Linked DNA regions of Homo sapiens: region 1 is linked to region 2. Evidence: fine-mapped expression QTL. A gene starts in region 2. The other region holds a variant in brackets. All regions are shown on one strand. Distances are from middle to middle. Region 1 overlaps CTCF (CCCTC-binding factor). Region 2 holds the start of FHOD1 (formin homology 2 domain containing 1).

Evidence for each region. PIP is the estimated chance that this variant, and not a neighbour inherited with it, causes the effect. A credible set is the group of variants that fine-mapping cannot tell apart.
Region 1: its variant is the best candidate, but not a certain one, in a credible set for the expression of FHOD1 in whole blood (TOPMed, PIP 0.74).

What each region holds. Positions count from the first base shown.
Region 1 is chr16:67,580,114-67,585,475 of GRCh38, reverse strand. All of the region lies in intron 2 of CTCF (CCCTC-binding factor), which reads right to left. Among named protein-coding and RNA genes, the nearest start is that of CTCF, 20 kb to the right of the region's middle. The variant G/A (reference allele first, on the strand shown) is at 2,570.
Region 2 is chr16:67,245,232-67,250,593 of GRCh38, reverse strand. FHOD1 (formin homology 2 domain containing 1) reads left to right here and starts at 3,113. Exons shown (of 22, transcript NM_013241.3): 1 at 3,113-3,384. The coding sequence starts at 3,184. SLC9A5 (solute carrier family 9 member A5) reads right to left here and starts at 1,615. Exons shown (of 16, transcript NM_004594.3): 1 at 1,393-1,615. The coding sequence starts at 1,579. RefSeq lists enhancers at 877-1,376, 1,377-1,878, 4,279-4,938 and silencers at 1,554-1,663, 1,964-2,053, 2,074-2,163, 2,806-3,175, 4,076-4,175.

The DNA.
Region 1 (5,362 bases), 330 kb before region 2:
CTGAACTTTAATATTATCTTCAGTCAGAGCCTAGTAATGCATCATTGCACATGTGGGCAAACTTTTTTAAAGTTGGTAACATTACTGCTCTTGTTGTCTGAAAAATACACACTGAAGACATGTGTAAGACGGGCACGGTGGCTCACGCCTGTAATCCCAGCACTTTGGGAGGCCAAGGTGGGTGGATCACATGAGGTCAGGAGTTTGAGACGAGCCTGACCAACATGGTGAAACCCCGTTCACTACTAAATACAAAAAATTAGCCGGGCATGATGGTGCATGCCTGTAGTCCCAGCTACTTGGGAGGCTGAGGCAGGAGAACTGCTTAAACCCAGGAGGCAGGAGGAGGTTGCAGTGAGCCAAGATTGTGCCACTGCACTCCAGACTGGGCAGTAAGAGCAAAACTCTGTCTAAAAAATAAAAAACAAAACAAAACAAAGACATGCATACTACACCCAAGAGCAATTAATGTACAGCCTCTACATTGTTTTTCTAGACATACACATTGATGCATGTTTTTCTGTCAAAAGAGATTTAAAAAATGAATGTATAAAATAATTAGCTACAGAATCAAATGCAGCAGGAAATTCTGGGAAACCCAAAGACTATTCAGAGCCAGTCTAGGGAAGAACAAAAAAGGCATAAGCACTTGTCCTACATCCATGACCTTAGGTGAATCACTTTGCGTCTTAGTTTTCTTATCTGTAAAATGAAGGGATTGACAGATGACTTAAATTTTCTTTTGGCTTTAATATCCTACAGTTTTATTAGGTTATCAATTTGAGTAATACTTATAGGTAAGAAGGGAACCAGTATCACCACTTTACAGTTTAAAAAAAAAAAGAAGACTGGCCAGATGCGGTGGCTCACGCCTGTAATCCCAGCACTTTGGGAGGCCAAGGCTGGTGGATCATGAGGTCAGGAGTTCAAGACCAGCCTGGCCAAGATGGTGAAACCCTGTCTCTACTAAAAGTACAAAAATTCCACCACGCCTGTAATCCCAGCTACTAGGGAGGCTGAGGCAGGAGAATCGCTTGAACCTGGGGGGCAGAGGTTGCGGTGAGCCGAGATCGTGCCACTGCACTCCAGCCTGGGTGACAGAGCGAGACTCCATCTCAAAAAAAAAAAAAAAAAAAAAGAAGACTTTTTTTTTTTGAGAAGGAGTTCCGTTCGTCATCCAGGCTGGAGCGCAATGGCACCATCTCAGCTCACTGCAACCTCCACCTCCCAAGTTGAAGCAACTCTCCTGCTTCAGTCTCCCGAGTAGCTGGGATTACAGGTGCCCACCACCATGCCCAGCTAGTCTCGAACTCCTGACCTCAGGTGATCCACCCACTTCGGCCTCCAAAGTGCTGGGATTACAGGCATGAGCCACTGCGCCCAGCTGAAGGCAGACATTTTTAAACGACTGCACACAGTGAGGCTGCACACAAGCATGAAGCAAAGAGTGGTTCTCTGGCTTTGCAGTCCCCTTGTCTGTAACCCAGAAATCAGACAGAAGTCTCCAAAACCTAGTTTTCGCTATGCACACCACTAATCGCTAATGCACACCACTCTACTGAGCAGCATTTACATCTGCAGTCCAAGAAATATAAAGCAGAATCCCTGTGTCAGGCAAAAATGCTACAACATAAAATACAACTTACCAGAATGCCCTTTTCTCCCTCCATTAGGATATGTTTTAAACTAGAAAAGCTGCCCGAAAGTCAAGGATTAATCACTGTATACTCTTGCTTACTACTCACCACACAGAGCATCAAGATATATGCTCTTTTGTTTTTTTTTTTTTGAGACCAAAACTCACTCTGTCGCCCAGGCTGGAGTGCAATGGAGCAATCTTGGCTCACGGCAACCTCCACCTTCCAGGTTCAAGTGATTCTCCTGCCTCGGCCTCCCGAGTGGCTGAGATTATAGGCATGCCCCACTACACCCGGCTAAGTTTTGTATTTTCAGTAGAGACAGGGTTTCACCATGTTGGCCAGGCTGGTCTTGAACTCTTGACCTCAGGTGATCCACCTGCCTCAGCCTCCCAAGGTGCTGGGATTACAGGCGTGAGCCACCGCGCCTGGCTAGATATATACTCTTTTCCTCAAAAACCCTCAGCAACCTAGGACATTTTAGGACTCATTTCCTCCTTCCTTATTGGGGAAGATAATGTGTATCATCTACTTCTTTCAAAATAAGAAGTAGGCTGGGCGCCATGGCTCATGCCTGTAATCCTAGCACTTTGAGAGGCCAAGGCTGGAGGATCACTTGAGGTCAGGAGTTAAGAGACCAGCATGGCCAACATGGTGAAACCTCATCTCTACTAAAAATACAAAAAATTAGCCAGGCGTGGTAGTTGGTGCCTGTAATCCCAGCTACTTGGGAGGTTGAGGCAGGAAAATCACTTGAACCTGGGAGGCGGAGGTTGCAGTGAGCCGAGATCGCACCACTGCACTCCATCCAGCCTGTGCAACAGAGCAAAACTCCGTCTCAAAAAAAAAAAAAAAGAAAAATAAGAAAAAAAAGAAATTGGAGATTTAAGTTCAGTGTGTGAAAAATGTGTAGAGTATTTACAGCTATATAC[G/A]TGATAGGATAATCTACATAGCTGTTAACTAAGACAGACCTCTATGTCACCCTATCTGTAAGTCATTAAACCAGCAAATATCTACCACTTAGAAAACAAGAACAGGACCAAAAAAGGTTTGATTAAAAAAAAAATCTCAAAGTCTATGCACTCAAATTTACAATAAACTTGGCTCTCAGAGTCAATGTTCATATTTTATTTAATTTATTTTTTTGACACAGAGTCTCACTCTGTTGCCCAGGATGGAGTGCAGTGGCGCGATCTCGGCTCACTGCAACCTCTGCCTCCCAGGTTCAAGTGATTCTTGTGCCTGAGCCTCCCAAGTAGCTGGGATTACAGGCACCCACCACCATATTCGGCTGATTTTTATATTTTTAGTAGAGACCGAGTTTCATCATGTCGCCCAAGCTGGTCTTAAACTCCTGAACTCAAGCGATCCGTTCGCCTCAGCCTCACAAAGTACTGGGATTACAGGCATGAGCCACCCTGCCTGGCCAATGCTCGTATTTTAGAAATAATTCAATTAATGAGGAATAGGTAGAAACAACATACTAGAGGCAAAAAGTCAGGGCAAACAAGGACTGCTATGCCCAAAGGAACAGTTCAGAAAACTAAAGCATGCACACATGCCACTTAACATCCAACAACAAAGTTCCTACTAATTTGAAGTAACAGAAGATTTTTTTTTTTTTTTTTGAGACGGAGTCTTGCTCTGTGGCCCAGGCTGGAGTGCAGTGGCACGATCTCGGCTCACTGCAAGCTCCGTTCATGCCATTCTCCTGCCTCAGCCTCCCCAGTAGCTGGGACTACAGGTGCCCACCACCACACCCAGCTAATTTTTTGTTTTAGTAGAGACGGGGTTTCACCGTATTAGCCAGGATGGTCTCCATCTCCTGACCTCGTGATCCGCCAGCCTCGGCCTCCCAAAGTGCTGGGATTACAGGCATGAGCCACTGCACCCGGCCAACAAAAGATATCTAACAGAGGCTGTGTGAGGTGGCTCACACCTGTAACCCCAGCACTTTCGGACGCTGAGGCAGGTGGATCAACATCAGCCCAGTCAACATGACAAAACGCTGTCTCCACTAAAAACACAAAAATTAGCGCTGTGTGCTATGGCTCACGTCTGTAATCCCAACACTTTGGGAGGCCGAGGTGGGTGGATCACCTGAGGTCAGGAGTTCTAGACCAGCCTGGCCAACGTGATAAAACCTCATCTCTACTAAAAGTACATGATTAGCCGGGTGTGGTGGTGCACGACTGTAATCCCATCTACTCCGGAGGCTAACGAAGGAGAATCGCTTGAACCTGGGAGGCGGAGGTTGTAGCGAGCCAAGATCGTGCCACCACACTCCAGACTGGACAACAGAGGAAGACTCTGTCTGAAAAAGATAAATAAAATAAAAATAAAATAAAATAAGCCAGGCCTAGTGGAGCATGTCTGTAATCCCAGCTACTTGGGAGGCTAAGGCACAAGAATCACTTGACCCCAGGAGGCAGAGGTAGCAGTGAGCCTAGATCATGCCACTGCACTCCAGCACGGGAGACGGAGTGAGACTGTCTCAAAAAAAAAAAAAAGAAAAAGATCATCTAACAGGAAAAACGTTCACAACACGCAGCAAGGTTACAAAGGAGGATGCAGAATAGGATTCCAACCTAATTAAAAATAAGTAAGGCCGGGCCAGGTGCAGTGGCTCACGCCTGTAATCCCAGCACTCTGGGAGGCCGAGGCAGGTGGATCAGGAGGTCAGCAGATCGAGACCATCCTGGCTAACACGGTGAAACCCCGTCTCTACTAAAAACACAAAAAATTAGCTGGGTGCGGTGGCGGGTGCCTGTAGTCCCAGCTTCTCGGGAGGCTGAGGCAGGAGAATGGCGTGAACCCGGGAGGTGGAGCTTGCAGTGAGCCAAGATAGCGCCACTGCACTCCCGCGTGGGCGAAAGAGCGAGATTCCATCTCAAAAATAAATAAATAAATAAAAAATAAGTAAATCCTGGTGCGGTGGCTCACGCCTGTAATCCCAGCACTTTGGGAGGCCGACGTGGGTGGATCACCTGAGGTCAGGAGTTCTAGACCAGCCTGGCCAACATGGTGAATCCCTGTCTCTACTAAAAAAAAAAAAAAAAAAAAAAATTTGGCCAGGCGTTGGGGCAGGTGCCTCTACTAAAAGTACAAAATTAGCCGAGTGTGGTGGTGCACGCCTGTAATCCCAGCTACTCTGGAGGCCGAGGCAGGAGAATCACTTGAACCCGGGAAGCAGAGGCTGCAGTGAGCTGAGATTGAGCCACTGCACTCCAGCCTGGTGGACAAGAGCGAGACTTCGTCTCAAAAATAATAAATAAATAAATAAATACATAAATAAATAAAATAAAAATAAAATACATAAATAATTAAAAAACTAAGCTGGGCATGGTGGCTCACACCTGTAATCCCAACACCTTGGATGGCCTGGGAGGAGGGGATTGCTTGAGGCCAGGAGTTGAAGGCCAGCCTGGGCAACACAGTAAGACCCCATCTTTACAAAAAAAATTAGCTGGGCCTGGTGATACGCACCTACACTCCTAGCTACTCAGGAGCTTGAGGCCAGATGATCACTTAAGGCCAGGAGTTCAAGGTTATAGTGAGCTATGATCACACCACAGCACTCTAGCCTGGGCAACAGAGCGAGAGTCTGTCTCTAAATTAATTTAAAATAATCATTATAATTTAACAAACTAGACAAACAGCAATCCCAGTTATCCCACCTTAAGTCAGGACAGCATTACATCTTGCATGGACCAATGCAATGGCCT
Region 2 (5,362 bases):
ACTTCCATAGGAAATGTCATCCAAACTAGAAAAAGAACCATGATTTATGGGGAAAACTACAGTTTTTGCTATAAACCCTAAGACAGGAACTCTTCTGCAACTCACAGACTTAGCAAACCCAATCGTTGGCTCCAAACCTGAGGCTCTTTCTACTCTTACTCTCATTGCTGCTGGACCTCTAAGGTAAACATGGTCATAGATCTCTCCATACTTGTCCCTACTTTGGTCTCCCACTTCTCTCCTTCGGGGACCCTATTTCATCTTCATCTCTTCATGCATTAACCCCAGCCCCGAGATCCAAGCCCCATCACAGAACCACGCTCCCGGAAGGCATATTGAGTTCCACTTTCCATTATTAATCTCAGGCTGCCACAGCAGAGTGGAGAGTTCTGTTCCTGCCCAGCCCCCTCACCCCCTAGCAGTGTCCATGTGGGAGAAGAGGGGCAAATTCTAGGCTCTGGGTGATTCCTCCATGAAGGCTGTATTGGTGAGACTGGAGTACAGGCTGTGCCAGCATCCATGGGGAGAGAGTAGCAACGCTCAGCTATAATTAGTCACCCCCACAGCAGAGCCAGCACAACAGGGAGAAGGAGGAGGGTCTCTGGTGGGAGGAGGGACCACTGGCTGCTCAGAAGGGAGGAGGAAGGAGCAGATGCAAGGAAAAGCAGCTCTATTCAGGGAAAAAGAAGTCTGAAGCACAGCCTTCAATGCTGTCAGGACTGAAGAGGTCGGATGTATGAAAGCATCTAGGGTAGACAGCACACAGGAAGGCCCCGATACACGGAAGTTTCTTATACCCTGAAGTGAGAAGAATGTGGACCTGAACGTGGGTTGGGGGGGTACCCATACACAGGCACAAGAAGGCAGCAGCTTTAAGTGGGGAGCAGGGGAGAGCTGGAGGAAAAGTGGCAGTGTAGTTTCCCAAGGGAATGGACACTCGGACATGGTCTCCAGGGAAGGCTGCTTTTTCAGAACCAGGATGCCTGTGTTCTTGGGAGAACACCCTCCCCTCAATGTCCCCACACATCCTCACCAGCGACAGAGGTTTCTGGGAGGCTAGGGATTGGTGGGGGAGAGACCAGACTGAAGAGGGCCTACTGCAAGGGGAAGAGGGGAGCGGAGAGGGCAAAGGAGCCTACAGATGGAGTTGGGGAGAGCGGGGGACAGCCCTTCAGAAAGGCAAATCCTCAGAGCTCCCAGGGGAGAAGACAGGGACCTGGGACCCACAAGAAGCGATGCAGGAACTGGGCGAGAGCCCGGATTTGTGGAATCCAAACCTAAGTCCCAGCACCGTGCAAGAAGCCAGCCCCAATCTGAGGACCGAGGAGGTGGGGGTGTTGGGGGCGGGTCCGCCGCTGGCGGTCGGCCTGGCGCACGCACACACGCACTCACCGATTTTGGCCAGACTGGCCACCAGGATCCACAGGGCCACCAGGTAGGGCGCCTCCACCTCGTGCCACTGCCAGCGGAAGAGCTCTAAGCCTGGGGGAGGCTCGCCCGGGGACTCTGGCTTCTGGGTGGGCTCTTCGGCCGCCCCCGCCAGGGGCAGCGCGAGCAGGGACAGGGCGGCGCGCAGCATCCTGCCGCCTGCCCAGCCGCCCTCCCGGCACCGCACGGCCGCCGGCCCCGCGTCGCCGCCGCCACCTACCGGGCGCCCCCGCGTCACAGGCACGTGGGGCCCGCTCCCCCCAATCCCGGCTCCGATACCCCCAAGCCAGGTCCAGGCTCCGAGACCCTGCCTCGGACTCTCGTAGTCGGGGACTCTCTCCTCTTTCCTCCCTAAATCAGTCCCAGCTCCGGAAATTCCCCAGTGCAGCTCTCCCCCAAGTTCCACAACCTACTCCTTCGAGTCCGCGCCCCCAAACCTCCCCAAAACCGCCCCCACCAGATCCAGAGCGGTGCGCGGCCACGGCCCCCCTGGGGCAGCCCGCAGCGGGAAGGGCGGGGGTCTGCGGGGGGCGCGGTCAGGACGGGAGGGGCACGGCTCCTCCTCGGCCAGCGCTGCTGTGCGGCGAGCAGCACCCCCCTGGGACCAAGGCGCGGCCGGGTGCAAAACGCAGGGGACCGTGCTTGGCCGCCCTCCGCCCACGTTGCCAAGCCCAGGACCCCCTGCCGGCCCCCACCCGGACCTGAGCTGCGCACGCGCACTGGACGCTCCCCAAAGCAGTGACGGACAACGCTGCCCCCAACGTCCCAGAAACCCTAAGGCCCAGACTGGCCCAGCTCGTGCCAGGCGAAGAGGGAGGCTGTTCTTCATCTCCCAAACCAAGGGGCACCTGGCCCTCCCTTTCAGTCACACTACAGAGAACTGTCTCATCTCTTTGATGAAGCTGACAGGAACCTATGGAAAACCCAGCCTACTGATTCCCTTCAAACTAGGCGAGATGCACCCAACTTTTTCCAAATCTGAGGGGCATTCGGCTCATAGCGCCCCAAACAGAGGAGGACCGTCTCCACTTTTCATTCAGGCTGAGGGGCACCCATCCCACTTTTTCTCCAAAACTGAGGGGAACGTGTTCTATCTGCCCCCTCAAACTGACTCCTCCCAATCTTTTCCCAGAAAACTGAAGGGCATCCTTCCCTCTTCCTCCCACAACTAAAGGGAACTGATCCCACCTCTTCCTTCAAACTGGGTGGAATTTATTCTCACTTCTTGCTCCAAATTGAAGGGACCCCCTCTCACTGCTTTCCCTAAATGAGGAAACCACAGGGACTCACCCCTCAAATGGAAGGAATGAGGGCTATCTTGTCCCTCAACTGAGAGAGACCTGGCCGGCCACTATCTAAAGAAACTTCTGCCCCATCTGCCCTAACACCCCTCAAAGAGAACGCAGCCTCACTATCCCCAGACCAAAGAAAGCCTCCCCGCCTTCTGCGCGTTCTCGAAGGTGGGGCGCGAGCTCGGTTTTTCCCGCCCTCCTAGCCAGTGAACTAACGGGATTCCCATTGGGCCCTGTGAGTGGCTAGCGGCGGCCCCGCCTCCGGCAGTGGTTACCTCCTGGCGCGCACTCGGGGACTAATCTTGGCTCCACCCCCTTCCTCGGCCCCGCCTCCGTCTGGCCCCGCCCCTCCAGCCGCGTCCGGTCCGGCCGGGCCCGAACCGCGGAGCTACAGTGTGCTTTGAGTAGAAGCTGCACTGGGGCCGGGACTCGGAGGCGCGCTGCGTGAGCCGGCCGCAGAGCCATGGCGGGCGGGGAAGACCGCGGGGACGGAGAGCCGGTATCAGTGGTGACCGTGAGGGTGCAGTACCTGGAAGACACCGACCCCTTCGCATGTGCCAACTTTCCGGAGCCGCGCCGGGCCCCCACCTGCAGCCTGGACGGGGCGCTGCCCTTGGGCGCGCAGATACCCGCGGTGCACCGCCTGCTGGGAGCGCCGCTCAAGGTGAGGGAGGCCGGAGAAAGGTTGGGGCGATCGGGGGTTCAGGGTGGGCGCCATGAAAACTGGTGGGAGGTGCTCCGCGGGAAGAGGCTGGAGCGAGTGTTCTTCTCCGGAAAAGTCTTGGGCTGGGGTCCCAGGGTCCACTCTGCCCCGCCTGCGGGGGAGTCCCCTCTCAAGTTGAGGGGAAACTGAAGAGGGGTGCCAGGAACTTGGCTCCGCCATTCTGACTGCCCTTCGAATTAGGCGCACCTGGGGAGGTGCTCGAGTTCCACTCGCCGTCGGTCTGCCAGGGTGGCTTCCCTGGTCAGAGTGACGGTAGCCGCTTGGGCTGTAGCGGACCCTGGAGGCGGAGCTGGGGAGGGACCAGCTTCCACCTGCTTCAGGTGAGGTGGGGGCGGGACCACGAGGAGGGGCGGGCCCGAGGCGGACTACTAGAGGTGGCAGAGGTTTCCTGCGGTGTCAGGAAGCTGGATTGGGGCTTGACCCTGTAGGTCAATGGGAGTATGGGAGTGCCGGCCGAGGAGAGACTTCACGGGGTGAGGGGAGTCCCCGCGAAGCGGTCTGGCCCGGGATCCGCAGAGCGCAGGAGGCTGCACGGGTGTAAAAGCCCTTTGAGTCACCGCTCCCGCCCCCACCCCCGGACACTCGCCGCCCATCGGCCCGCGCCTGAAAGTGAGAGGGAGGGCCGGACTAATTTTAAACAGCCGGCCTGCCCTACTTTGCTGCCGCCCCGAAGCGGACTTGTGCACAGTGCGGAAAGAGGCCCTTTTCCAGATGGCCAGCCTACCTCCTCTCCCCTCCCTCTCGCCGCCGTCAGCCCCCCGCAGGCAGCCCTTTCCGGCGCGCTGTTTCCGGGCCAGGACTCTGGGAGGCGCACTACCACCTCCACAAGCTCCCCACCAGCCCGGCCGCCTCCAGTGCTGGAGAAGAGGAGAGAGAGTCGGGGTGGGTGCCCTCCCCTGCTCCCAGCCTCAGCTGGGCGGCGAGTTGCGTAAACTTGCCCCTTGGGCCTGGGGTCTTCCCTGGAATGTGCCCCGGGCCCCCAGCCCGCATTCCTCGCGCTGCGGCCAGCCCCGCCTCTGAGCGCTGGCGGGAGGGGTGGTGAGACTATTGGCCTGGAGAGTGGCACGTGTCCAGGCCAGAACCCCGGCTTCAAGGCCATGGCTGGAAGGATGCAGGACACTGCTCACCGCCAGTTTTGACTCAGCCCCCGCTTCTCTTGCCCTATTCAGAGGGGCAAATTGAGGTGTGCCTGGAAGAAGCGTGTGCAGCTGGAGGCCACCTCCCATTCAGGATGGGGGCTGGGAAGACAGGAGTGCTGAACTAAGACTGGTTCCCGCTTCCAGGCTCCTAAAGTCCGGATCCTGAAATAAGGGTGGGGCACTAGAGAATATATTGTATTCCTCTCATCCTGCAACTCAAGGATTGGACCTAGCCCTGACACCACCCCCCCGATTTTTTTTTTTTTAAGACGGATTCTGGCTCTGTCTCCCAGGCTGGAGTACAGTGGGGCTATCTTGGCTCACTGCAACCTCCACCTCCCGGGTTCTAGCAATTCTCGTGCCTCAGCCTTCCAAATAGCTGGGATTACAGGTGTGCGCCACCATACTCAGGTAATTTTTGTATTTTTAGTAGGGACAGGGTTTCTCCGTGTTGGCCAGCCTGGTCTCAAACTCCTGACCTCAGGTGATCTGCCTGCCTAAGCCTCCCAAAGTGCTGGGATTAAGGCTTGAGCCACCATGCCCAGCCCCTTGACACACCTCTTCCCAGCTGGGGGCAAGCCTGGGAAGTCAGCTGCAAGAAAGAGGCTCAGAACCACTCCTTCTATCTCCCTCTCATGGGACCCGTGTCCCCACCCAACCCTACCAGGTGCTCTGCCCTGTGTTCCCTGCTCCTTAGCTGAGGACACTACTGAGCTCCGGTGAAGAATATAAGTTCCTCATCCCCAATGCAGTCCTTCCTGGTCTCCCCGATTTCATGT